Linked DNA regions of Homo sapiens: region 2 is linked to region 1. Evidence: fine-mapped expression QTL. Tissue or cell type: whole blood. Region 1 holds a variant in brackets; the other region holds the start of a gene. All regions are shown on one strand. Distances are between the middles of the regions.

Region 1 (8,104 bases):
TAGCAGACTGGACGCGGTGGCTCATGCCTATAACCCTAGCACTTTGGGAGGCTGAGGCGGGCAGATCACTTGAGGCCAGAAGTTCAAGACCAGCCTGGCCAAAGTGGTGTTACCCCATCTCTACTAAAAATACAAAAATTAGCTGGGCATGGTGTTGTGTGCCTGTAATCCCAGCTACTCCAGAGGCTGAGATAGGAGAATCACTTCTTGAACCCAGGAGGTGGAGGTTGCAGTGAGCTGAGATCACACCACTGCACTCCAGCCTGGGCAACAGAGCAAGATCCAGTCTCAAAAAAAAAAAAAAAAGAGAGAGAGAGAGGTAGAACACGACTCTCCAACAGAACTTTCTTGGATGATGGAAATACAGTATTCTAAATCTGCACTGTCCAATACAATAGCCACTAGCCACTTGTGGCTATTGAACCCTGGAAATGTAGCTATGTGACTGAGGAATTGAATTTTTAAAATGTTTATCTTAATTAAAATTTAAATAGCCACATGGGGCTAGTGGTTACTGTATTAGCATAGATGTGAAACATTTCCATCACCCCACAAGGTTCCTTGGTGTTACAGTCCAAGTCAATCTCCCTTCCCCCTCAGGAAATCACTGTTCTTTTATTTTTTATTTTTTGAGACGGAGTCTCACTCTATCGCCCAGGCTGGAGTGCAGTGGCGCGATCTCCCCTCACTGCAAGCTCCGCCTCCTGGGTTCACGCCATTCTCCTGCCTCAGCCTCCCAAGTAGCTGGGACTACAGGCGCTGCCACCACACCCGGCTAATATTTTGTATTTTTTAGTAGAGATGGGGTTTCACTGTTTTAGACAGGATGGTCTCGATCTCCTGACCTCGTGATCTGCCCGCCTCGGCCTCCCAAAGTGCTGGGATTACAGGCGTGAGCCACTGTGCCCGGCTTTTTTTTTTTTTTTTTTTTTTTTTTTTTTTTTTTTTTTTTTTTTGAGACAGAGTTTCGTTCTTGTCACACAAGGTGGAGCGCAATGGTGAGATCTGGACTCACTGCAACCTCCGCCTTCCGGGTTCAATAATTCTGCCTCAGCTTCCTGAGTAGCTGAAATTACAAGTGTGCACCACCACGCCCAGCTGATTTTTGTATTTTTTAGTAGAGACAGGGTTTCACCACGTTGGCCAAGCTCGTCTCAAACTCCTGACCTCAGGTGATCCACCTACCTCAGCCTCCCAAAGTGCTTGGATTACAGGCATGAGCCACCACACCCGGCCTCACTGTTCTATTTTTCCTCATTAAAGATTTGTCTTTTTGGGCTGGTCATGGTGGCTCTGACCTATAATACCAAAACTTTGGGAGGCCAAAGCAGGAGGATTGCTGAAGCCCAGGAGTTCGAGACCAGCCTACTCAATATAGGGAGTCCTCATCTCCACAAAGAAAAAATTAAAAATTAGTGGGGCATGAGGTGGCCGCGATGGCTCATGCCTGTAATCCCAGCACTTTCGGAGGCCAAGGCGGGTAGATCACGTGAGGTCAGGAATTCAAGACCAGCCCGGGTGACATGGCGAAACCCCATCTCTACTAAAAATACAAAAATCAGCTGGGCATAATGGCACATACCTGTAGTCCTAGCTACTGGGGAAGCTGAGGCAGGAGGATCCTTTGAACCTGGGAGGCAGAGGTTGCAGTGAGCTGAGATCACGCCACTGCACTCCATCCAGCCTGGGCAACAGAGTGAGATGCTGTATCAAAACAACAAAAAAAATTGTTTTTTCTTTCTTTCCTTTGTTTTTTGTTTTTTTGTTTTTGTTTTGAGACGGGGTCTCCCTCTGTCGCCCAGGCTAGAGTGCAGTGGTGCAATCACAGCTCACTGCAGCCTCGACCTCCTGGGCTCCAGCGATCTTCCCGCCTCAGCCTCCCGAGTGGCTGGTACTACAGGCACATGCCACCACACCCAGCCAATTTTAGTATTTTTTGTACGGATAGTATTTCGCCATGTCACCCAGGCTGGTCTCAAACTCCTGGACTCAAGCTACTCTCCAGTCTCAGCCTCCCAAAGTACTAGGATTACGAGCATGAGCCACCATGCCCAGCCAAGATTTGTCTTTCAACAGTTTCTTAGGACTGGAATCATACAGTGCATACTCTTGTGTCTGGCTACTCTGGAGAGCAAGAACTTTTAACTCTATACCCTCTGGTCTCTTATAGTGCCTGGCAGATAATAGGTGTTTAATAAATATTGAGGAAAGAATGAATTAATAAATCTTAACCAGAATTAATTATCTTACTCTGAACACCCTTATCTTCCCACTGAATAGAATACAAGAATTAAAAAGGTCCTCACAGAGAACATTTAACGAAACTTCTTGGATTTACCAGTGGAAAAACTGAGATCCAGATGGATTCAGCGGCCTGCCCAAGTTCACTCTACAAGTGCATAACAGAGCAAGAATAGACCCAAAATGGGCAGACTTCCAGGCCTGTGCTCTCCTCGCTTCACAATACCAGTTTCCCACCCATTTCCCATAGGCAAATATGGCGTTTCTTCATGGATCCCTGTGGAACCATAGAATGCCAACAACATGTCACTTTGCTTCTTTCAGCCTCCTGTGGATGCCGTCCTGGCCACAGACCACTCACTGAAAACACAGAAACAGCAGCAATTCAACTTAGGGAGGTGTCTCATTTCATTTAAGTATACCCAAAACCCAAGAGTAGCCTTACTCAAATACTGGGCTGTAGATTGGTTTTCTAGTCAGGAAGCAAACTAGCTGGTACCTGATCCAATTATCCACTCACTAGAGATAGAAAAACATTGCATTTTTTGTAAAGTTTTTATTTAAAACCTCTTTTTTTTTTTTTAGACGGAGTTTCTCTCTTGTCACTCAGGCTGGAGTGCAATGGCACGATCTCGGCTCACTGCAACCTCTGCCTCCCGGGTTCAAGCGATTCTCCTGCCTCAGCCTCCCGGGTAGCTGGGATTACAGGCGCATTATCAGCACACCCGGCTCATTTTTGTATTTTCAGTAGAGACAGGGTTTCACCATCTTGGCCAGGCTGGTCTTGAACTCCTGACCTTGTGATCCACCTGCCTCGGCCTCCCAAAATGCTGGGATTACAGGCATGAGCCACCGCACCCAGCCTAAAGACCTCTTAAATAATAGGGAGAGAGGAAGCGAACTATTCATTATAGACCTTGCATGTGCTGCGATGCTCCACATAAGGTTTTCACTTAACCTTGCTGCAACCCTAAGAGGTCAGCATCAAGACCAGCCTGAGCGACATGGCGAAACCCCATGTTTAGTGATAACTAAAAAGTTATTACTTTTATAGGTAATGGCGACAAGACGAAGAGCCATCTGTTAAGTTGCCCCAGATCCTACAGTTGTGAGGCCTGCACTAGAACCCATATCTCTCTGCTTTTGAAATGGGAGGGTTCCCCAATCCCTCTCACAGGACGTGTGAAGGCAAGTGTGG[C/G]TTGCCTGTCACTGCCACTGCTCAAACCCCCGAGGGAAGGGGGAACACACAGACAGGCAGTTGCAGGAACCCAAGTGGGCATGTGTTACAGTGTGCCCTTTTAGCCCTCCTATCTGTAGACGGCTTGAGTGTTAAACCGCTCAATGGACCCTCTGCCTTTTCATAAGGGCAGAGGGCCAGTGTGATAGCTTTCTGTATTGTGAGCTCTTGCCTAGCATCCTGGAAGAATCGGGTCACACATGGGCTTGAAGGATGAATGTGGGGTTTTATTGAGTGGTGGAGGTGGTTTTTAGAGGGATGGATGGGGAGCTGGAAGGGGGAATGGAATAGGAAGATGATATTCCCCTGGAGCCTGCCCATCCAGTGGCCGAACTCCTCTCTGACCACCCCCAGCCAAACTCCTCTGGGCATTCAGATGTTCCTCTTCGTCTCTCTTTCTCTGTTGCATCATTCCGCAGTTCCTCTGCCTATCTCATCTCCTCCCCTGCTTGTCTGCTTCCGGAGCCTGGAGTTCGGGGTTTATATGGGTACAAGATAGGGGGTGTGGTGGGCAAAAAGGCAACTTTTTGGGCACGAAAACAGAAATGCCTGTTCCCACTTAGGGCTGCAGGTCTCCAGGCTTGAGGGTGGGGCCTTTGCCGGGGACCGCTCTCTTCTACTCAGTATTTCCCTGTCTCCTGTCCATATCACTTTCAAAGCTGATGCTTTTTGTACCATAAGCTATTATCTTTTAGAACCAAGAAAAATAGATTTTATGTTGATGTTCCAGTATGCACCTTTTAATTAGACAGTAATACAGGTAAATAATCTATGTTGCTGTTTGTTGGGCAGCTCATAGCTCAACTGGGTGCCATTTGCTAACTTAGCCTTTAGCCTAGGTTTTCTGGTATGTTTCTGCTTCCTCCTTAGTATACTTAACTGATACTTTAACTCTTAATTCAAAGGTTTAATGATCTCTACCTTTTAATACAAAAAGTTGAGATACAGATTGTAACTAAATAAAATTCTTTACCCAGGACAGTACCTGTTAACATTGAAACCTTTTCATTTTAACTGAAGGAAATTCAAAATGTAACTGTTGCCAAATTCCTTGTTTCCAAATTTAAAGGCCTCTCCATTTCAGACAATTCCACTGGGGATTAATGGCCCATTGGCGTCTATACAATTTCCTTAATTTACCCTAAAATTATTATCTTGAGTAAAGCAGAATCTTAATAGACAACATTAATGTCTTTATCCTTGTCTGGAAGGATCTCATCTCTTTGCAAAAAATAGCTTCTTCAAACGAGGCTGGATAATCCCCCCTAGCCATGGTGATTAAAGATAACAATGGCTCATTTAGAAAATGTTTTGGGGAAATTAAAAAGCTGAGATGAAGCCTGTTGGTTCTGGAGTAAAAGTAAAGGCAGGAAGGGGAGGACACCAAAAGCATCCATATATTGGACTATGTTTGCTTCCTACTCAGTCAGCACAGGCCGCAGTGTTTGAGGACATGCAGTCAGGTCTGTGGGCGTGATCTCTCTCTACACCGAAGGAATGAGCTTCATCAGCACCATTCCATCGAAGGGAATTTTGTGCTGTATGTTCCCAGGGTCACTCACAAACATCCCTACTTACAAGTGACTTGATGCTTTCCAAAATAACAGTTTATTGGGATTTTGGTTTAAGTTTGCACTAATTCAAAGCCTGCAGACTGCAGTATACTTACACACCTTTATTGTACTTATGAGTGTAGAAACTGTGATACGGCTGATTCACTTATTCATTTACTAACATATAGTGAGGGGTGTGTGTGTGTGTCTGTGTGTGTATGTGTGTGTGAGAGAGAGAGAGACAGGGCCTCACTCTGTTGCCCAGGCTGGAATGCAGTGACAAGATAATGACTTACTGCAGCCTGGACCTTCTGGCCTTAGCTGGGCACAGTGGCTCATGCCTATAATCCCAGCAGTTTGGGAGGCCAAGGCAGGAGGATTGCTTGAGCTCAGGAGTTCAAGACCAGCCCTAGCAGCATAGCAAGACTCTGTCTCTAAAAAAAAATAAAAATTATTTGGGTGTACTGGTGTCCACTTATAGTCCATCCACTTGTAATCCCAGCTACTCAGGAAGCTGAGGCGGGAGGAACACTTGTGCCTGGGAGGTCAAGGCTGCAGTGAGCCAAGGTCACACCATTGCACTCCTGCCTGGGCAACAGAGTGAGAACCTCTCTATAAACAAACAAAAGAAAAAACCTCCTGGGCTAAACGTTTCAATCTTCCAAACATACAGTTGATTCCTCTGGCAACCAGCACCCTCATCTTGAGGGGCTTTTCCAAAGTCACTTCAATAACTCAGGTGTGGTCAACAGGGACTTATGATAAGTAACAAAAGTTGTTCCTTTCACCTTTATCACCCTGGACCTATTACAAGAGCCAGGGGCAAAAACCAAATATAACTTAAGATGCTACTACAGCTCTTATCATTTAGAAACTTGCACAAAAGCTGGGAGCTAGACAAAGACCCAAATATATATTTCTTTTTTTTTTTTTTTTGAGACAGGGTTTCGCTCTGTTGCCCAGGCTAGAGTGCAGTGGCGCAATCTCAGCTCACTGCAGCCTCCATCTCCTGGGTTCAAATGATTCTCCTGCCTCAGCCTCCCAAGTAGCTGGGATCACAGGCATTCACCACCATGCCAGGCCATTTTTTTTGTATTTTTAGTGGAGACAGGGTTTCGCCATGTTGGGCCATGCTGGTCTCAAACTCCTGACCGCAAGTGATCCACCCACCTCGGCCTCCCAAAGTGCTGGGATTACAGGCGTGAGCCACTGTGCCCAGCCTATATTTCTTATTATATCACAATACACAAGAGAGTATCATCATCATCATCATTTTTATCATGAATGAATATTGGATTTTGCCAAATGCCTTTTGTACAGCTATTGAAGTAATCATCATATTATTTTTCTTTCTCAGCCTTTGTGAATTACACTGATTGATTTTTAAATGTTATACCAAACTTACATTTATGTGATAAACCCCAGTTGGTAATGAAGTACTATTTGTGCGTGTGTGTGTGTGTGTGAGTCAGAGTCTTGCTCTGTCACCCAGGCTGGAGTGCAGTGGTGCAACCTCCACCCCCTGGGTTCAAGCAATTCTCCTGCCTCAGCCTCCCACATAGCTGGGATTACAGGCATGCGCCACCACGCCTGGCTAATTTTTGTATTTTTTGTAGTAGAGACGGGGTTTTGCCATGTTGGCCAGGCTGGTCTCGAAGTCCTGACCTCGGGTGATCCGCCCGCCTTGGCCTCCCAAAGTGCTAAGATTACAGGCAGAAGCCACCACGCCCAGCCTTGAAGTACTGTTTTTTAAAGTGTATTGTTGTACTTAAATTTGCTTGAATTTTCTTAGAAATGTTTCTCTCTATATTCATGAGAGACATTGGTCTGTTGTTTTCTTGTTATGTCTTCTTTTTTTATTTGGGTAATGCTGGTTTCATAGAATGAGTTGACAAATATTGCTTCTTTAGTTTTTCTGGAAGGGTTTGTGTAGAATTGGTAATATTTCTTTAAATATTTCTAGAGTTCACCAGTGAAGCTATCTGGACCTGGAGTTTTCTTTGTGAAAGGTTTGTTTTTTGTTTATTCGGAGACAGGGTCTCACTGTGTTGCCCAGGATAGAGTGCAGTGGTGCAGCCTCGGCTCACTGCAGCCTCAAAATGCTGGGCTCAAGTGATCCTCCCACCTCAACTTCCCAAATAGCTGGGACTACAGGCATATACCAGCACACATGGCTAATTTTTCTTTTTTTCTTTCTTTCTTTTTTTTTTTGTACAGACGGGGTCTCACTTTGTTGCCCAGGCTGGCCTCAAACTCCTGGGCTCAAGCAGTCCTCTTGCCTTGGCCTCTCAGTGTGCTGGTATTACAGTGTGAGCCACTACACATAGCCTGTGAAAGGTTTTTAACTACAGGCCAGGTACGGTGTGGCTCATGACTGTAATCCCAACACTTTGGTAGGCCAAGGCGGGCAGATTACGAGGTCAGGAGTTCGAGACTAGCCTGGCAAGCGTGGTGAAACCCCGTCTCTACTACAAAAAATACAAAAATTAGCCAGGCACTGTGGCGCGCACCTGTAATCCTACTACTTGGGAGGCTGAGGCAGGAGAATTGCTTGAACCCAGGAGGCAGAGGTTGCAGGGAGCTGAGATCGCACCATTGCACTCCAGCCTGGGCGACAGAGCAAGACTCCATCTCAAAAATAAATAAATAAACAAACAAATAGTTTTTAACTACAAATTAAATTAAATAAAGGTAACATGACTACTTAGGTTATCTATTTCTTTTTGAGTGAGCATGGTTTGTGTCTTTGAAGGAATATGTACATTTCACGTAAGTCATCAAATTTGTTGGCATAAACTTCCTTTATTATCCTTTTTTTTAGACGGGGTCTTGCTCTGTTCTGTCACCCAGACTGGAGTGAAGTGGAGCAATCTCGGCTCACTGCAACCTCGGCCACCCAGGTTCAAGCGAATTCTCATTCCTCAGCCTCTCGTTTAGCTGGAACTACAGGTGCTATGCCTAGCTAATTTTTGTATTTTTTTAGGAGAGTCGGAGTTTCACCATGTTGGCCAGGCTGGTCTCTCAAACTGCTGACCTCAAGTGATCCCCCCACCTCGGTCACCCAACGTGCTGG
Region 2 (8,104 bases), 120 kb after region 1:
AAAAAAAAAAAAAAGTCCTACCCAGCCAACCAATCAGTGAATGTTTTGCTGGGTTTGTGGGAGAAAAAGTGCCTGCTTGCTGGGCAATTAGTTTCAGTTTGCAGATCAGTGTCCTTGTAAACAAAAAAGGGCCCTAACTGAGGGGCAGGCAAGAGCTCTCAGCTAGATCTCCATGAAAGAAATTATTATTAATTCAAAAAGCATCTATAAGACCTATTCAATCAAATAATATATTATCAGTGGCATTAGTTCTTACAGGAACGTTGAAATTAAAAAATACTGTACAACCATCTTCTCAAATGCCAGGGAATCCAACTTTGCAAGCCAAACCAGTTGTCTCAAATTCAATTATAAGTTTTCCTTCTGCCAAAGAGATATGTTTTCTGTTTAAAGTAGACTGGAGCCCATGCTCCATACTTGATCAGATCACTGTAAAGTCAATTTAGCTGCTGAGAACTAGATATTGGCAATCTAGAGTGAATTCACAGAGAAGTACAAACTACCTAATATTTAAAACACAGGAAAGTTATCGAAATTGGACATCCTTCCAAGATTTTTTCACCCAAAGACCATCACAGACGTAAGTATAATGTTAGTTCATGAAAATTATTAAAAGCCTTGAACAACAGTTCAGATGACAAATATTACTCAATCCAGCTTTACTGCAGTGTATACTGAATTGGATTCTAAGCAACTCCAGTGAAAGTATTAGAGAATATAGTAAATAGATGATGGATTTAACAAAAATACTCTGTGCTGCTTCCTCTCTGCTTTTTAAAGTGAAGCCTAGAAGCAATCTAAGTGTCCATAAATAAGGGCTTGGTTAAATAAATTATGATACATTCTTACCCTGGAAAATGCAACTATTAAAAAGAATAAAGTAGACCCTAGATACCGATATTTTTTTTAAAAGTCCATGATACATAGTTAAGTGAATACCACAAGTTGCAAAACATGTATAGAATTATTCCATTTTGATTTTTTAAAATCTATTTTTAAATACCCTGTGTGTATGTTCATATATGCCCAGCAAAAACAGCTGAAAAAAGATCTGACAAATTGCTAACAGTAGTAACCTCTAGGGACTGACTGAAACTAGGAGGCAGTGAAGGAGTGACTTTCCCTTTTTCCTTTGTGGACTTCTGGTTGTTTATATTTTTTTGCCAGTAGGGGTTACCTTTGGGGTTGAAAAATAACAACACAAAAATAGTAAAAGTAAAATAACATGAATTACACAGATTTATTTATCAGATACTAACCAAAGTAAGTGATCTTTCTACTTAAATGCTACTGTATGCTTAAAACTCCAGAGAATCTAATTCATTCTTTTTCTATTATATTTTACTAAAACAAATAAAAATCACCCCAAGTCCCTACTAGTTTTCTCAAATGCTTTCTATACATACATACATACACACACACACACACACACACACACACCCACAGGCCTGGTCATAAGCATAGCTAACACACACGGTGCTTATTCTACACTAGGAACTGTTGTAAGCACAGTAAGTGTTAACTTATTTAATCTTCCCAGCAGGCCTGGTGAAGTGAATCATGCCTGAAATCCTAGAACTTTGGGAGGCCGAGGCAGGAGGACTGCTTGAGTTCAGGAACTCAAGACTAGCCTGGGCAATATAGTGAGCCCTCATCTCTACAAAAAATACAAAAAATTAGCTGGGTGTGGTGACCCACGCCTGTAGTCTCAGCTGCTCAGGAAGCTGAGGTGGGAGGATCGCTTGAGCCTGGGAGGCAGAGGTTGCAGTGAGCCAAGATTGTGCCACTGCACTTCAGCCTGGGCAACAGAGCCAGACCCTGTCTCAAAAAACAAAAACAAAAACAAAAAAAGTCTTCACAGCAACCTTATGAGTTAAGTACTACTATAATATTATCTTCATTTCACAATCAAAGAAACTGAGTCCAAAGAGCTTCAGTGAGCCGCCTAAGCTTACACAGCTAACAAGGGGAAGAGCTAGGATTCAAACCTAAGAATAAACTCCAGAGTCCATACTCTCAACCACTATGCTTCCTGTCTCTCAGTAATATGTCAATCTCTCTATATGAAAGCCAAAAGGGGTTACAGGTAAAACCCAGCTAGCTAATGCATTCCTTGAAGCTGGAAGAGATGCACACTTGGCTTTTTATGGGTGAATAATCCTACTTATGTCATTGCCAAGCTCCAACCCAAGGATCAAGACTGTATTAAGGTTCATAACCATGTGGGAAAATTCTCTACACACTCAATTATAGTCCAAAGTCCATACCTGACTCCACAGTAAATCACTAAGCCTAAGATTTAGGTCAGAGACCCAGCTAGACAAAGGATTTGGACAAACCTCCACCCCAACTCAAAGCAAGACAATTCAGAAACTTTTGTCCAAACGTTCTGACAAAGTAGGCTTTTGTTTTGTTTTGTTTTAGTCCTAGGCCCACTTAAGATTTAAACGGGGAAAGAATACGAGTTGTCTTTAACTTTGCTTGAAGACTTCAGCAAGAAAAGCCTTTTCTACGTGGGCTCAAACAGAAATTGGCATATATCAGCATCAGCAAAGTTGAACATCCTGGCTTAAGGAGACAAAAATAGGCATCCTTGCTTAAATGGTGTATTTGGCCAAACATGTTGACCTTATAATTGTGGAAGAAAAAAATGGTGCGAGGAAGAGATTTAACCTAATTTGTAAATGTGCTCAGCCTAGATACACACCTGTCCCAAATGACCTACTGAATCCACTTATTTGCAGGGACAACATGGATTACAATGCCTTTTTTGTTTTTATTTTTTGCCCTCAAGTGGTCCATACTACTGTTTGTAAACAAAATCCTCTCACTACCTCTCTTCCACCTGTCATACACACACATCTGATATTTACATAAACAAGAAGAAATGAACAGGGAAACTGGAGCTTTGGGAGGAATTCCTTACCCTCAGCTTTTGACCCAGTGGTTGAAGGAGGTACTATGCGGGCTTTCAAACTTCCCCAAATAACCCAGGCAGAGAGGCTGGGTGCGCGAACCCAACCCAAAAGTTTGCGCCCATTCTGGTCTCTGAAAAAGGCCAGAAAGCCCTGTTGGGAAGAAGATGAGATGCCTTCCACCCAGCAGCCACCCCCTCCCGAGGGAGCACAGCCCACGGGGGACAAAAGACTTTCCAGATTGATCGGGGGCGGGAGGGAGACTAGCTGGACCTGGGATCCCCCCTCGGGAGCCGGAACCTGGGGTGTCTTTGGGGTAACAAACGATAAATTATAGGCAAGAGCCCAACCCTAGATTGCCGGGGCTGAGGTGAGGACGGGTCCTGCCCGAGAGGGAGCGCCGGACTCACCTGGAGGAGGCGAAGAGGGGGCCTCGGTGGCAGGTGGGGTGGGGAGGACGCTGCTGTTGCTGCTGCTGGGGAGATCGGGGGTCGGGGTCCGGGGAGTCGTGGGCGCCGGTACGGTGGTCGCTACAGGGGTGGTCGGCGCCGGGCCAGTGGTCGTCGAAAGGGTGGTCGGCGCGGGTCTGGTCGGCGCCTGAGAGGTGGTCGAAGTGCGTTCCGCCGCCGGAGGGGTGGTCGGCGAGGGGCCGAGCGGCGCCTGAAAGGTGGTGGAAGAGGGTCCAGCAGTCGCCCAAAGAGGGGTGGTCTCCGGGGACTGGGCTGGAGAAGTCGCAGCCAGGGGTCGGTGGACGGTGGCGCGCGGGGGCCCGGTCCTCGGGGCCTGGGCCGTGGGAGCCGTCGCCCTAGGGAAGGGGTGGCTGGGCTCGCCCCGCAACCCGGGGCCCGGCGACGCGTCCACCTGCCCCGCGGCCCCGCCGCCACCGGTGACATTCCCCGCCGAGGCGGCTGAGGCGACGGCGGCGGCGGCGGCGGCGGCGGCGCAGCACAACAGGGCGAGGCCGCCCAGGCTCGGCAGGCTCCTCATGGCGCGCTCGGCTCCGCCATTCATTCATTCAGCCAGTCGGTTGGTCAGTCATCTTCTCCTCGTTGCAATCCGACCAAGGAAGCCTCCGCAACCGCCGCCGCCACCGCCACCGGGCGCACCATCGCCACCTCCCTCTGACAGGCGGCCGGCCCCGCGGGCGGGCCCCAGCGCGGAGGGAGCGACCGGACCGAGCGCGGACCGCCCGCCCTCCTCGATTGGCAGCCGCGCCTAACCAATGGGAAGCCACAGTCGCCCACGTGATCCGCCCGCTTCCCGGCCTCTTTGTAGCCCCGTAGGCCAATCAGAGGACGTCCAGGAGAGGGGGCGGTCCGTGAGGCGGGAGAAGGGTGGTGCGAGCCCAGCTCTAGCCCGCCGGGCTCGCGGCGGCCCCGGCTTTGTCTGCCCAAAGAGTGGGGCGCGGGCCTCGGGCACCGGGCGCCGCGGAGCAGACAAAGGATGCGCCCCGCGCGGCAGACGCCGGGCCTAGTCATCTGCTCCACCGGGCTGCGAGCACGAGCGGGGGGTGGAATCAGCACTCGGGAGCATCCCCGCCCTCCTGAACAATGGGGCGCCAGCGCCGCACCCCAGCTCGGGCGGGGACCGCGCGGGAACCCCGCGATGGGAGAGGGCAGCGGCAGCGACGATGTAGAGCTTGGCATGCCCTCTGCTGCTCCAGAGAGCCTGGTCGCAGCCTTGCGAGGTCTCTGCCGCCATTCCCATTTCAGAGATGGGGAAGCTGAGGCCCTTGCTGAGGGCCTCCCTGAACCGAGACCCACGCCCTCACCAGAAACCTGCTGTGGGCCAGGTGTTGTGCCAGACTGGACAAGGGGGCGGGACCGGGCGGTGGAGACCCCTGAGGGCAGAAGGTGCAAGCTTCCTGCGTGGAGGAGACAGGCTCGCAAGCACACTTACCTAAACCCCGGGAAGAATAGGATCAGACAGGGTTGAACCTCAACTTGATGTCTTTTGCTGAATGGTTTTGTGGCCTGAGCGCGGTTTTTTCACCACTAAAATGGAGATGATAGGACACCCCTCACCCCCCACCCCCCTCACAGAGCTGTTGTGAGAATTAAGTCATGGACGTAAAGGGCTTAGCCCAGAGCCTGGCCCACTGTTGTAACCCTCATTAATGCTAACTATTCTCAGCATTTGCGCCAGGGCAAGCCCAGGATTAGAAAGCAGCCCCAGGCCACAGCCCTTCAGTGCCCCCAGAGCCTCCGGCTGGTTGCAGGGGTTGGGGTGGGGCTAATAGCCGAGCTTGACCCTGGATGACACTAAACCCTGAATCAAGCTGGAATTCGGGCACGCAGCCTCGCATCATCCGCCCAGGATCCAGAGCTAGGTCAGGCGCTGCTGCTTCGGCTCAGCAGCTTCCAGAGGAAGCCAGGCAGGGCGGGTTTGTCATCTGATGGGGCTTAATTCAAGCCCCACTGCTAACCCAATCCCGGCCTCCCCTACGTGATGTTTGGCTTTGTGCATGGTTTCCCATTAGTCATTGGTCTTCAACCAGACCAGCAGGATGAGATTTATGTGTGAACCCGTGTATGTTAATTAAAGCATGCATTTATTTTCCTGCATGAGTAGTGGGTGGGGGAGGCTGTGTATGAATGCATAAACATGTTTGTGAGTCTGTGTGTATGAGTGTTGTATGTATCTGTGTGAGTTTATGAGTATGGGAGCTAGTATCTATTTTCATATATTGTGTCTTAATAATCTGTGCATGTGTACTGGTGTGTGTTTTTGTGTATTTTCTGTGTTTTTGCATTTGTGGTTATCTATGGGTGTGTCTTGATAGGTCTATGTATATAAGACAGCGGGAATGAGGGAGAATGTGAGTGTTCTGTCTTCAGGACCAATATTTAGCAAGCACTAACCAAGGTTCTATTTTTACTTTGCTTTGGGAGGGTGGACAGGTCATGCCAGTCCCCCATATTCCCTTGCTGACCCTCCCTGGCCCTTCAAACCCCAACCAAAATGTCACATTCTCTAAAAGACATTCCTGGATTTGAGTGGGAATTAATCTCTCCCTTCTCATTTCCCCACCACCCCTTGTTTATGCATTGATTACAGCCCTGATCTACCAATCTACCTCTCCGTTGCCTCTTCCTAAAAGGATTAAGGATGGCTTTCAGAAATATATACAACAGGATAAATTGTATTGCCCACATGGCTTTATTACTTCTCATAGGCATGCATCAGCCTTAATACTAGAACTTGTTATTTATGTGTCTGTCTCTTACGTCAGATGTTCTCCCTGTTCTGAGAACCTAGCAGGGGCAACACATGTAAGTGCCAACCCATGCTGGTTAAATTGAATTAATTGAGGTCTTGTCGTGCTTGTGGGAGGAGCTTGTGTCTTTAGAGTCAGACAGACTTGGGTCATGACTGCCAACTCTGTGACCTTGGAGGAAACCTTTCACCTCTCTGAGCCTCAGTTTTCCCCCCCACTTTTTTTTTTTTGAGACAGTGTTTCACCCTTGTCGCCCAGGCTGGAGTGCAGTGGGGTGATCTTGGCTCACTGCAACCTCCGCCTCCCAGGTTCAATCGATTCTCCTGCCTCAGCCTCCCGAGTAGCCGGGATTACAGGCACTTGCCACCAGGCCCAGTTAATTCTTGTATTTTTAGTACAGACGGGGTTTCACCATGTTGGCCAGGCTGGTCTCGAACTCCTGAGCTCAAGTTATCCTCCGGCCTAGACCTCCCAAAGTGCTGGGATTACAGACATGAGCCGCCGCGCCAGGCCACTTTTCTCATCTATTAAATGGGGCCAATAAATAGTCTCTCATTTGTTGACTAGGATTGAGGAGAATGTTTTTACAGAGCCTAGCACACAGACGGTGCTCAAGCTGTGTAGGTTCATATTTTTGTTATACCATTGCTAACTTTGAGACTTGTTGGCTGAAGGACCAGAGCAGAAACCCCTGCCCCATAAGTTCCCCATCAGGTGACATGGCCTGACACTTGCCCTACCTGATATTTCCAAATGATATCTGAAAAATGCTGGGTTGGCCCTGAGCTTTGCTGTATCAGAGGTTCTCTGGCAAGGGGAAAAAAGCTGATGCAGCTTCTTGGCCAGGAGAGCCACAGAGCAAATGACTAGGAGACCTTGTCGAGTGATTCAGGTCAGCTCTCTGCCTTAGGCAAGGATCATCCATGCCGGGGCTTTTAAGATGGGATATTAGCCTGTCATATGTATAGAAAATATTGAATTTTTTTGAAAGATACCAGTAATTTAAATGTGTTAATGTCCATTCAACATTTAATTTTTAAATTTCCTTAATCTTAAATCTTCCTTAATCTCTAAACTACAAGATGACTTTCTTAGGAATTATGTTTGTGTTTAAAAATTGGAAATACCTTACATATCTGTCATCAAAGAAAGGTATTATTATACCTGTTAAATTTAATCCTAGAAAGTCATTGTAAGTGTAGCTATGAAGACAGTATAGCAAATATTAATAGTAAATAATTGAGCTCATAGTCTATGCTAGACACTATACCAAGAGCTACATATGAATTGTTTTGTTTAATCCTAAAAACCCCAGGAAATAGGTACTATTATGTCTTAGTCCATTTGGGCTGCTGCAACAAAGTACTGTAGATTGTGGCTTGTAGACAACAAAAAATATATCTCTCCCAGCTCTGGTGCCTGGGAAGTCCAAGATCAAGGCACCAGCAGATTCAGTGAGCTCCCTGGGTGTCCTTTAAAAGGACACTAATTCCATTCATGATGGCGCTGCCCTTATAACCTAATCATCTCCCAAACGCTTCCAAATACTTTTACATGGGGAGTTAGGATTTCAACGTGTGAATTTTAGGGGGACACAAACATTCAGTCTATAGTCTATTATTATCTGCATTTTACAGCTAAGGAAACTAGGTCACAGGTTAAGCAACTTGCCCATGGTCACTTAGTAAATAATAGAGCTAGAAATCAAACTGAGGCTGGCTGGCTCCCACTGACACCCTTAACTATAAATGGAAAATCCTCATAATGGTAAGAAGAAAAGAAAAAATAAAAATTATAGCTGTGACACTCTGTGTAACAGAACATTGACTGGCACTTTTCCTATTTGCCCCAGAACTGTAGCTAAGGCCCATGAGACCTGGAGCCAAAGGCTTAGGGAAGGACCACAGAACAGCAGGGGTCAGAGTGGGCCTTGTTGGAGCCAATGTGCAGCCTGACTTTTCTCCTAGGCAAA

Evidence for each region. PIP is the estimated chance that this variant, and not a neighbour inherited with it, causes the effect.
Region 2: MEGF9 starts here. The variant in region 1 is fine-mapped to the expression of MEGF9 in whole blood (TOPMed, PIP 0.94).

What each region holds. Positions count from the first base shown.
Region 1 is chr9:120,588,505-120,596,608 of GRCh38, forward strand. No RefSeq gene overlaps it. Among named protein-coding and RNA genes, the nearest start is that of CDK5RAP2, 12 kb to the left of the region's middle. The variant C/G (reference allele first, on the strand shown) is at 3,440.
Region 2 is chr9:120,710,433-120,718,536 of GRCh38, forward strand. It overlaps MEGF9 (multiple EGF like domains 9), which reads right to left and starts at 4,038. Exons shown (of 6, transcript NM_001080497.3): 1 at 3,326-4,038. The coding sequence starts at 3,926. RefSeq lists a silencer at 3,726-4,575.